Linked DNA regions of Homo sapiens: region 2 is linked to region 1. A link means that fine-mapping ties the variant in region 1 to the plasma level of a protein whose gene starts in the linked region. Region 1 holds a variant in brackets. A gene starts in the other region. All regions are shown on their forward strands.

Region 1 (5,369 bases):
CAGCCTTTACAAACTGAGGTGAATATCGTTTTCCAGCACTGGAACCTTACATTTGAGACAAAAATAGCCACATCGTTGCGCCATGTGAAATTGTGCAGAAAACTTACTTAAGGGAAACAAAGAATATACCCCATCCCTGAGGATAGTTCTTTAGATACCAATTCTTTACTAGCTTATGCCACTGGTTAATTCTACTTACCAAGGTGGCGGACATTCCACATAGGATCGATGGTAGAGTGCTGTTGATAAAATACGATAAGCAGAGGAGGTGTTGTGATGCTACCAGCCAGGGTTCTGCTATACAGTCCCTCTCTTGGTGGGACAGAAAACAAATGTTTGTTAGTGAAAAGTACTGACTAACTCCTGTTAGTCAAGACTCTAGGAATTGAAATACAACAGTTTTTCACAGCTAGGCCAGTTACATACTTACTCTACATTGAGTTTCATCCATTTTTCCAGTTGGTTAGTTATATTCTGTCGTTTCCATTCCGTCAGGTTTGCAACAAAAACTCCAGGATTAAATGAGCAAGTGCTGGCTTTCATGGAAAGCTTACGAATTCTTTCCTTTTTATAGTCAAGATAGCCAATGTAATTGTACTAAAAACACAAATAGGATATATGTACTTACTGCTTCAAACAAAATAGATACAATTTTATAGCCAGTAGAGAGAAGAGCTGTTAAACTGACTTCTTCAGATTAGAAAATAAATATTTGAAATTCCAAGTTAGAATAGGAACCTAGATGTTGACATAATAAACCAGATGTTCAAGAACAATTAGGCTGTCAAGTCCATGAAGAAGTCTACAGAAAAGCAGGCTTGAGTTTTGGGATGAAATGATTGGGGAGTGTAAATTGCAGCAAAAGAGTTCCCTGAATTTGCAACCTCTTCCCATTAAACAATATTGTAGGAAGAGGGGTGTTTGGTAAGCAATTTACCTGGTTTCCTGCTCCACGGATGACAACTTTAGTAGAGGCTGAATCACAATCTTCTGAAAATGCAGCTGCATGTCCTGGCTTCAGTGCTGTATTGTAAAGGGCAAGAATATCACCTGAAATAGACAAGATGTTAAGATTTACATTTCCGTTGCCTTGAGAGTTCCCTGTTACTCCCACTTCTCCCTATGGTGACCTTTTATAGAAGACCATAAATAAACCACTACAGCCCACTGTAGCCCA[T/C]TGTTTTATTTAGCAATTGTACCCAATCTGGGTGGAGAACAGCACTCATGGTGACATTTTTGATACCTTGCACAATTACATCATCATCCATGTATATGGCCTTCTTTGCGCTGGGAACCAGAATTGGCAAGTAGAACCTTGCAAAGGTTAACTGGAAAAGGAAAGAATAATTGGCATAGGATACCGCACTAGCTGTGCTTTTATTTACACAGAAACTCCTAGGATGCTTTCAGTACCCATTCAGGAGAAGAAAGGACTCTTAGAACCACCCAGGCTTGGTCCCCAGGAAACTACTTGCACTATACCCACAGATACCCAGGTATTCCATTATTTCCTAATACTGCCAAGTGCAAAGAAGGATGCATGGAACTCACAGGTTTCATGGATTCCCCCTGGTCAGGATCCTCCTTTACTTTTCCTTCCAAAAGTTTAGGGTCAAAATTGACAATTTTGTATCTGATGCTTTTCAGGGAATCACTGTTGAGCCAGGACCTGATGAAGATAAAACACTACATTTTAGTTTCAAATAATGTCTCCAAACCAATGAGGGAATAATGCAAAAGAAACCCTATGGACCAAATAGGTGTTTTCAAGCTCCTTTTATCTCTGAGCTTTGGTTTCCTCGTCTGAAGTGAGGGTAATTCCCACCAAAGTCCCTCCCTGAATTAAGATTGTATGGTAATTATCTTCTAACACTAAAACTACTCTAGAAAAACTATAGAATTAAGAACATTTCATCACCACCTGGACTATCCAACTCTTAACTGTGGTGACCCTAATTCCACCACTCAAGTCTGAGGCACTACCTGTAAGAAAAAACTGTTTGCTAAAGGAGTACTGCACATTTTTTCTAGGTCAGTTTCAAATCAGTGTTTTGTGGCTACTTAGTGTTATTTCTGTAGTCTATTTTTATACAGCTTCTGTTTCTGTATTTTAAATGCGTTCAGAATTTACAGCTTTAAAAACTAAATATGAACCATGCAGAGGGCCACAAGGACCAAAATGTTTCAGAAATTTGACAACTGGTTAATTTGTTAGACCAACAAATTTGGAGTAAGTTTTATAAGTCTTATTCATTTTCAAAATGGATTAGACTATCCAAGTTTCCCCAGATCACTCTGGGCCAGGATTTGGATCAGGATCTGTGATCAGCATCACAACACTACCTTGCCATTGTTGCTAAGTCCCTTCCCACTCTAGACCAGAACTGCTCCGAGCATGTCCATGAAATAAGGAACTTGTGACTTGTAAATCAACATTTACTGCTCCCTTCACTGAGAAAGTATTATTATCAAAACACCATCAGGTGGGGTTAACAGTTCAGAGTGACAGCTGACTTACTTCCTGGCATGAGCTCCTTGTATCACTTCTCCTATTATGGGGATATGCTCATAATACAGTCCTAAAAAAAATATGTCATTTGTACAGTTTATCACTGGTACAATTTCAATTGTATAAAACAACATACAAACCACAGAAAAACAGATCCTGGATTGGCAGCTGGCCTGCTCTAAATCATCCTCTAGAAGCAGAATCACATAAGCAGAGCTCACCGGAGATGGTCTGCTGTATTGTTGAGAGTAACAATGTAGAAAATCACATTGGAGCGAGTGTTGTGCTGAATGCTGTTTATAGCTGCAATGGCCCCCCCAAGCCTGTCTTCAGATGCAGCGATGACCACAGGAATCTCCTCTTGTCTCCCATCTACTGCATGTCGGAGAGCATTTGGGACAAAGTCTATAGGTTGAGGCCCTACAATTCCTGAATCTGAAAACACAAGGAAGGCACTGTGATTACAATCTCATGGGCTTTTGATATAGAGTCCAAGACATGGAAAAAGGGAAGGTAAGGATTATGGTACTGATCTACCTCATTCTCCCCCATTAAACTGAAGCATATAGCCCTGAAACTTTCCCTGTATGTAAATAAGCTTTTGGAAAAGTGGAGGAAGCATTTTTTAAAATACACTGACAGCACTTTGGTACACTACTGGTAGGAAAATAACAGAACCTGTTAGAATGTATTATGGCAATTTGTATCAAGAGTTTCCTAAGGACAAAATCTGAAATATAATCAAAAGAAAGAATTTTATTTAAATTGTGAAAACTTAGCAGCAAACTAAATCAATGTTTTTCAAGTCACGAATCACAAGTAGGCATGAAACCAATTGAGTGAGTCACAATCAATTTATACAGAAAAAGTTTCTGGATTGCAATAGAAAACTGAAATAGAGGCCGGGCATGGTAGGTCACGCCTGTAATCCCAGCACTTTGGGAGGCTGAGGCGGGTGGATCACTTGAGGTCAGGAATTTGAGACCAGCCTGACCAACATGGTGAAACCTCATCTCTACTAAAAATACAAAATGAGCCAGGTGTAGTGGTGAACACCTGTAATCCCAGCTACTTGGGAGACTGAGGCAGGAGAATCGCTTGAACTCGGGAGGTGGAGGTTGCAGTGAGCCAAGACTGTACCACTGCACTCCAGCCTGGGCAGCAATAGGAAAACTCCATCTCAAAAAAAAAAAAAGAAAACTGAATTAGAATACCAAAGAAAACATAGTGTATCACACAAGGAAACTGCAATTACTGTCCTGTATGCATTCTTGCCTTTCATTTTTTTTTTTTTATTCCTCATTGAACCCTGGTATTTACTATGTGCCAGGCAATATCTAGGCACTGGGGTTACAGCCATGAATAAAACATCCCTAACTTTCTGAGGATAGACAGCCAATAAGCAAATACACATGTATGTACATGTGCTACATGTAATGTATTTCCTATTGTAGGGCTGCCATCAAAAAGTCTGAAAGCTGTTGTAGCAAAAGATGTTATCCTGTGGAAACAAATTAATAGACATTAAGATTATGTATGAAGAGTTTCTACCATCACAGTGACATGATATACAGAAAAACATGTCATGTACAGTTTATATATAGTACAATCTCAACTGTACAGAAAAAAAGATGTGTAGGAAAAAACTGGAAGGTACTAAGCCAAAATTGTAAATGAAATCATTCAACCAACTAATATTTATTGAACAGCTAGTATCAGCCATCATCCATAGGCACAGAAGATAAAACAGTACACAAATTGCCTTCATGGAGCTTAAATACTGTTGTCTCTTTTTTTTTTTCTTGAGACGAAGACTCACTCTGTCACCAGGCTGGAGTGCAGTGGCGTGATCTTGGCTCACTGCAACCTCCGCCTCCTGGGTTCAAGCGATTCTCCTGCCTCAGCCTCCCGAGTAGCTGGGACTACAGGCGCATACCACCACGCCCAGCTAATTTTTGTATTTTTAGTAGAGACGGGGTTTCACCATGTTGGCCAGGCTGGTCTTGTACTCCTGACCTCGTGATCTGCCCACCTCAGCCTCCCAAAGTGCTGAGATGGTCTCGATCTCTGACCTTGTGAGACGCCCACCTTGGCCTACCAAAGTTTTGGGATTACAGGCATGAGCCACTGCTCCCGGCCGCTGTTCTCTTTTTTATAAACTTTCCTACCAGGAACATGCATTACTTTATATGTATCATACATATATACACGTGATAAAACATGCTATCAGAGCACTCCGTGAAAGTCAGGGGAAAGCTATTACAGTCTCTCACTCTGGTCAGCTATGGTGGGTGGCAATCCAAAAATGATTTTTGACAAACACTCAAGCCTCAAACATTTCTCAGTACCAAGGGAGAACAGTATGAACGACTAATTCAATATACTGTGCGATATATTATACAACACAGTGATTTTTAAAAATCACTTGACAAACTTTTATTGCTACAGTCCCACTGATGCAGCTGCACAGCTGAAGGAAAGTAACTAGACTGACACTCTAGTGACTAGAGCAGGCATCAAACACCAAGGACACTGGTATGCCCTCACTTTCTGAAGCCCTGTCCTGCTGACATGTGAACAGATGGCAGCCCTCAGAGGCTCTCCTAAGGCCTCTGATTTGGTGAAAAGGAATATTCTGTCAGATCAAACCCTTAACAAACAACTGCTAGTACTACCGGAAGAAGAACAACTTAGGATGTGTGACACAGAGAATACCAGGTCCGCAACAGATTCTAAGGCATTATTAATAAGTGCTCGCATACCTGTAACCTCATTCCTTAACAAACTGCTCAAGCTGAGGAAGTTATGGTGCAAAACCAGTAAGAAGAGAGCAACAGCCAGGACCAAGATGATGATGTTT
Region 2 (5,369 bases), not on the chromosome of region 1:
CTGGGGCCATGATGATGGTGTCCATCTGAGACATCCTCATCCTCTTCACTCCCATGGCCTCGGTGCCTGTGGGCCTGGTGTCCATACTCAGTGGAGGCCTCCTCTTCCTCCTCCTCCTCCTCCTCCTCCTCTTCTCCTTCATCATCTTCCCCATCATGGCCTCGGTGTCCATGCCTGAGGATATGATGGTGATGCTCACTGGACACAACTTCATCCTCATCCTCGTCTTGATGGCTGTGGCTCCTGTGGCTGGGGAGGTGGTGCCTGTGCTCAGCTGAGTCTTCCGTGTCTTCACTCCCGTGGCCTCTGTGCCCACGGGCCTGCCCACCATGCTCTGCAAAGACCTCCTCACCTGAGACACCCTCATCTCCGACTTTGTGGTCTTGGGACCTGTGGCCTGGGAGTAGGTGCCCATATTCCTTGGAGACATCTTCATCCTCCTTTTCACGGTCTGGGTGGCTCCAGAAATGATGCCCATTCTCTGTGGAAACATCCTTGTTCTCATCTGGATGGTCTCTAGGGCTGTGGAGGTGGTGGCGAAGCTCTGCTGATGCCTCCTCGGAGAGCCCGGCGACTCCAGTGCTGTTGTTCCGGTTTCTGAAGCCTAGCCCATCCCCTCTGAGCTGCTGGGTCATGGCCGGGGGGAGGAGCAGGCTGGCCACCCCAGCCCAGAGGACAGAAGCGTGCAGCCATGGCCTATGGTGGCCCATGGGGACGGACAGGCAGCACTGGCTCCAGCTGCCTCTGCGGCAATGTGGACAAACGTTGGGGTCTTTGTCCCTTTGGGGTTGGTCTCTTTTTTTCTCTGTGTCTCTCCTTTGTCCTTTCGGTCTCTGTCCACCTTCCTCTGGTCCTTGCTGCCTGGCTCTGGACACCCCTCTGAGGCTGTCTCCGGAGCCCCCTGACCCCCCTCTGGGGCCCTCCCTCCCCATTCCCCAGCCAATAGGGTCCTTCCCCTCCCCTCTCTCCAGCTAAATTTACTCTCAGCCCTGAGTTATTCTGGGTCAGTCCCCGCCTGCCTGCCTCCTGCTCCTCCTCCTCCCAGCTGGGGAGGGGACCAGTGAGGGGTCTCTCCCTGGCCAGGAGACGGTGGCCAAGGGACTTGACTTTGAACTACCAACAAGCTCACGTTTGGCAGCTGCAAAGACAAAGGCTAGACTTTTAGCAGGTTTTTGGGGGAGCCTGGGGCACCTGGGGGAGGCAGAAGAGACTTATCAGAGGGGAGAGACTCCTGGGACGGAAGGACTGGGGGTTCGATTGCGGGGTGTTTCCAGCTGGAATGATACGTGCTGGTGAGAGAGTGATGTCAGTATTGAGGCCCTAGAATGGGGGGAAAGGAACATGGCCCCCAACACACGTGCCCATGACCTCCTGTCCCTGGAACTCAGATCTGGGGGCAGGGACTGGGCTAGGCCAGGGCTATAAATACAGCTGGGAGGGGTAGGGGGACTCAGGTTACGGAGGCCACAGCTGTCCCCATCACAGAGGGCTGGCAGGAGACAAGTGGCCTTGCCCGTCTCTGTGTGTCAGTATTTCCTACTCCTCACCCTTCATGACTGCCCCCACTAGGGTCTCCTTTCCTGTTCACGGGTCCTCCTCTCTCTTCAATTCTGTCATCTGCTCTCTCAGGGTCCCTGTCCCTCCTCCATGGGATTGCCTCTCCCTCTCACTCTGGGCTTCTGTCCCACTCTTATCTTAGTGTCAGTCCTCCCCCAAGTCTGTGTCCCTCTCTCTCCCCTAAATCTCTGGCCCCTCCTTTCTGAGTTCCTGCCCTTCCCCCAATTCTTTGGTTTTTGCATCCCCCTCTGCCCCTTGCCTCAGTCAAGGTGTCTCCTCCCCATCTCTGGCATCCACCTCTCTGGGTCTCTGTCCCCACTCTCTCTCAGAGTCTCTGTCCCCCTCTGTCTCAGAGTCTCTGTCCACCTCTCCCTGGGTCTCTGTCCCCCTCTCTCTGGGTCTCTGTCCCCCTCTCCCTGGGTCTCTGTCCCCCTCTCTCTGTGGATCTCTGTCCCCCTCTCTCTGGGTCTCTGTTCCCCTCTCTCTGTGGGTCTCTGTCCCCCTCTCTCTGTGGATCTCTGTCCCCCTCTCTCTGGGTCTCTGTTCCCCTCTCTCTGTGGGTCTCTGTCCCCCTCTCTCTCTGGGTCTCTGTTCCCCTCTCTCTGGGTCTCTGTCCCCCTCTCTCAGGGTCTCTGTCCCCCTCTGTCTCAGAGTCTCTGTCCCCCTCTCTCTGGGTCTCTGTCCCCTCTCCCTGGGTCTCTGTACCCCTCTCCGTGGGTCTCTGTCCCCTCTCCCTGGGTCTCTGTCCCCCCATCCCTGGGTCTCTGTCCCCCCCTCTCTGGGTCTCTGTCCCCCTCTCTCTGGGTCTCTGTCCTCCTCTCTCTCTGGGTCTCTGTTCCCCTCTCTCTGGGTCTCTGTCCCCCTCTCTCTGGGTCTCTGTCCCCGTCTCTCTGGGTCTCTGTCCCCCTCTCTCTGGGTCTCTGTCCTCCTCTCTCTCTGGGTCTCTGTTCCCCTCTCTCTGGGTCTCTGTCCCCCTCTCTCTGGGTCTCTGTCCCCGTCTCTCTGGGTCTCTGTCCCCCTCTCTCTGGGTCTCTGTCCCCCTCTCTCTGGGTCTCTGTCCCCTCTCCCTGGGTCTCTGTCCCCCTCTCCGTGGGTCTCTGTCCCCTCTCCCTGGGTCTCTGTCCCCCCCTCCCTGGGTCTCTGTCCCCCCCTCTCTGGGTCTCTGTCCCCCCCTCTCTGGGTCTCTGTCCTCCTCTCCCTGGGTCTCTGTCCCCCTCTCTCTGTGGGTCTCTGTCCCACTCTCTCTGGGTCTCTGTCCCACTCTCTCTGGGTCTCTGTCCCCTCTCCCTGGGTCTCTGTCCCCCTCTCTCTGTGGGTCTCTGTCCCCCTCTCTCTCTGTCTATCCCTGGGTCCCTGCTGCCCCACCTTCTGATTCTCTGTCCCCTAAGTCTTTGTCTCCCCCTCTTTGGGTTAAATTGTCCCCTCCCTGTCTGGCATCCTCCTTTCTGAGTCTGTTCCCTCTCCGCCACTGGCCCCCAACTCCTTCTGTTCCCATCTCGCGCTTGCCCTTGGAGTCTCCCCTGTGTGTCTCTCTCCCCCCGGCCCGGACCTCTGCACCCCCCAGGTCGCTGTCCCTCTGTCCCCTTATCGCGGCCTGGGACCCGCCCTCTCCCCGCCTCCCGCTTTGGCGTCTCCAAGACTCCCCGCCCCCCAGACCTCGCCCCGCCCCAGGCTAGGCTGGAAAGTGGAGGATCCGGTTTGCTCTGGGCGGGTCTGGAAGCAGAGCCGGCGGAGGGAGCGCCGGGGCCCTGGGCTGCAGGAGGTTGCGGCGGCCGCGGCAGCATGGTGGTGCCGGAGAAGGAGCAGGTGAGCGCCGGACCAGGGTCTGCGGGAGCGCGGAGCTGGGGACCTCGCCTCCAGGCTCCCAGAGAGGAGGGCGCTGGACACCCAGATTCCTGGGTCAGACGGAGGAGGGGGATGGGAGGGTCCAGGTTCCAGGGTCCAGGGCATGGGGGTCGAGACTCCTGAGTCTGGAGCGGGAGGGCGCTGGGGGCCCGGACTCCTGTGTCCGTGGGGAGCGCACGGGGTGGGTGGCTCTGTGTCCCATAGGACAGAACTGGGTGCCCTCTCACCCCACTTCCACCCCTACATTTGTTCCTGTCCCCAGAGCTGGATCCCCAAGATCTTCAAGAAGAAGACCTGCACGACGTTCATAGTTGACTCCACAGATCCGGGGTGAGGAGTTCGCCCCTGGACTGACCCCAGAGGGTCCGCGGCCCGCTGACCCCGCCCGCGGATGGTCACGCCCCAGCCCTGCTCCTTCCCCATTCCTGGACTCGGGGACCTTCCCAAGGGCGTTCCTTGCCGACGCTCTCCCTCTAGGAGCGTTTGGGTCTGTGTAGACACCCCTCATTCCCCATTCGCCATTCTCCCGCTCAGGGTCAGTGTAGACGCTCCAGGGCTCGGTTCTGCTTCTTTCCTCCCCGATGTCTCTTCTATGTGCTTCTGTCTCTTCGTGTCACTTTCTGTGTCTCTGTCTTTCCCTTTTGGGTATTTCTGTTTCATTCATTCATTCATTCATTCATTCATTCATTCATCCATCCATGCAAGAAACCCTCACTCAGCGCTCCCAAGGTCCCTTTAGCCTAATTCAACGGCCCTGCCAGGGTTCCAATTTCCCCTGGGACACGTGCTGTGTGGCTTCGGGCAAATCATTTCACCTCTCTGGGTCCCGTTTCTCATCTGGGCATCAAAAGAGGCTTGATCTCCTGGGGTTATTATGAGAATTAAACAAGTTAATGCTTGTGATATTCCTGGCACAGCGCCCAGCACAGGACGCTGGGAAATATCTGCAGCTCCCACTGGGAGGTGGCAATTATTACCGCGGGCGGGCCCTGTCTTGGTGGCCGGGGACACCAATTGAGCTAGATAGGGTGTGTGCGTCCGCGAGGAGCTCCCGCCCTTCAGTGACGGCCTCTCAAGCGGATCCAGGCTTTCTAGTTTTTTTTTTTTTTTTTTTTTTTTTGAGACGGTGTCTCGCTCTGTCCCCCAGGCTGGAGTGCAGTGGCGCGATCTCGGCTCACTGCAAGCTCCGCCTCCCGGGTTCACGCCGTTTTCCTGCCTCAGCCTCCCGAGTAGCTGGGACTACAGGCGCCCGCCACCACGCCCGGCTAATTTTTTGTATTTTAGTAGAGACGGGGTTTCACCGTGTTGGCCAGGATGATCTCGATCTCCTGACCTTGTGATCCGCCCGCCTCAGCCCCTCAAAGTACTGGGATTACAGGCGTGAGCCATCGCGCTGGGCCAATTTTTTGTATTTTTTTTTTAGTAGAGACGGGGTTGCACCGTGTTAGCCAGATGGTCTCGATCTCCTGACCTCATGATCCGCCGGCCTCGGCCTCCCAAAGCGCTAGGATTACAGGTGTGAGCCACCGCACCTGGCCCAGGCTTTCTAGTTTTTTGTTTTTTGTTTTTTTGAGACAGAGTCTGGCTCTGTCGCCCAGGCTGGAGTGCAGTGTTGCGATATCAGCTCACTGCAACATCCACCTCCTGGGTTCAAGCAGTTCTCATGCCTCAGCCTCCCTAGTAGCTGGGATTACAGGTGCCTACCACCATGCCCAGCTAATTTTTTGTATTTTAGTAGAGACGGGATTTCACCCTGTTGCCCAGGTTGGTCTTGAACTCTTGATCTCAGGCAATGCACCTGCCTTGGCTTTCCAAAGTACTGGGATTACAGGTGTGAGCCACCGCGCCCAGCCCTCTAGTTGTTTTTCAAGACAGTTTTTGGGGTGCGGGAAGTATCCACATTCCTACTTCAGTGTGTATTTTGTTATGACTATATATTAGTGCAGTATGGCTTGTAAATGATGGAT

Alleles and levels. Positions count from the first base shown, and alleles are read on the strand shown. Strength reflects both the effect of a copy and how common the allele is.
For the plasma level of the protein whose gene starts at base 869 in region 2, allele T in region 1 goes with a lower level than allele C (weak association).

Evidence for each region. A credible set is the group of variants that fine-mapping cannot tell apart. PIP is the posterior inclusion probability: the model's chance that the variant is causal. Protein levels are from antibody-based Olink assays in UK Biobank. Linkage for the fine-mapping came from a reference panel and not from the study's own genotypes, which makes the PIPs less certain.
Region 2: HRC starts here. The variant in region 1 is the best candidate, but not a certain one, in a credible set for the plasma level of the HRC protein (UK Biobank, PIP 0.88).

The regions. Positions count from the first base shown.
Region 1 is chr3:52,694,991-52,700,359 of GRCh38, forward strand. It overlaps GLT8D1 (glycosyltransferase 8 domain containing 1), which reads right to left. Exons shown (of 10, transcript NM_018446.4): 3 at 5,272-5,369; 4 at 2,731-2,944; 5 at 1,552-1,669; 6 at 1,244-1,328; 7 at 938-1,050; 8 at 431-597; 9 at 200-312; 10 at 1-45. Among named protein-coding and RNA genes, the nearest start is that of SNORD69, 4.9 kb to the left of the region's middle. The variant T/C (reference allele first, on the strand shown) is at 1,178.
Region 2 is chr19:49,154,528-49,159,896 of GRCh38, forward strand. It overlaps HRC (histidine rich calcium binding protein), which reads right to left and starts at 869. Exons shown (of 6, transcript NM_002152.3): 1 at 1-869. The coding sequence starts at 710. It overlaps TRPM4 (transient receptor potential cation channel subfamily M member 4), which reads left to right and starts at 3,265. Exons shown (of 25, transcript NM_017636.4): 1 at 3,265-3,363; 2 at 3,665-3,732. The coding sequence starts at 3,340. RefSeq lists an enhancer at 2,999-3,620 and a silencer at 4,304-4,490.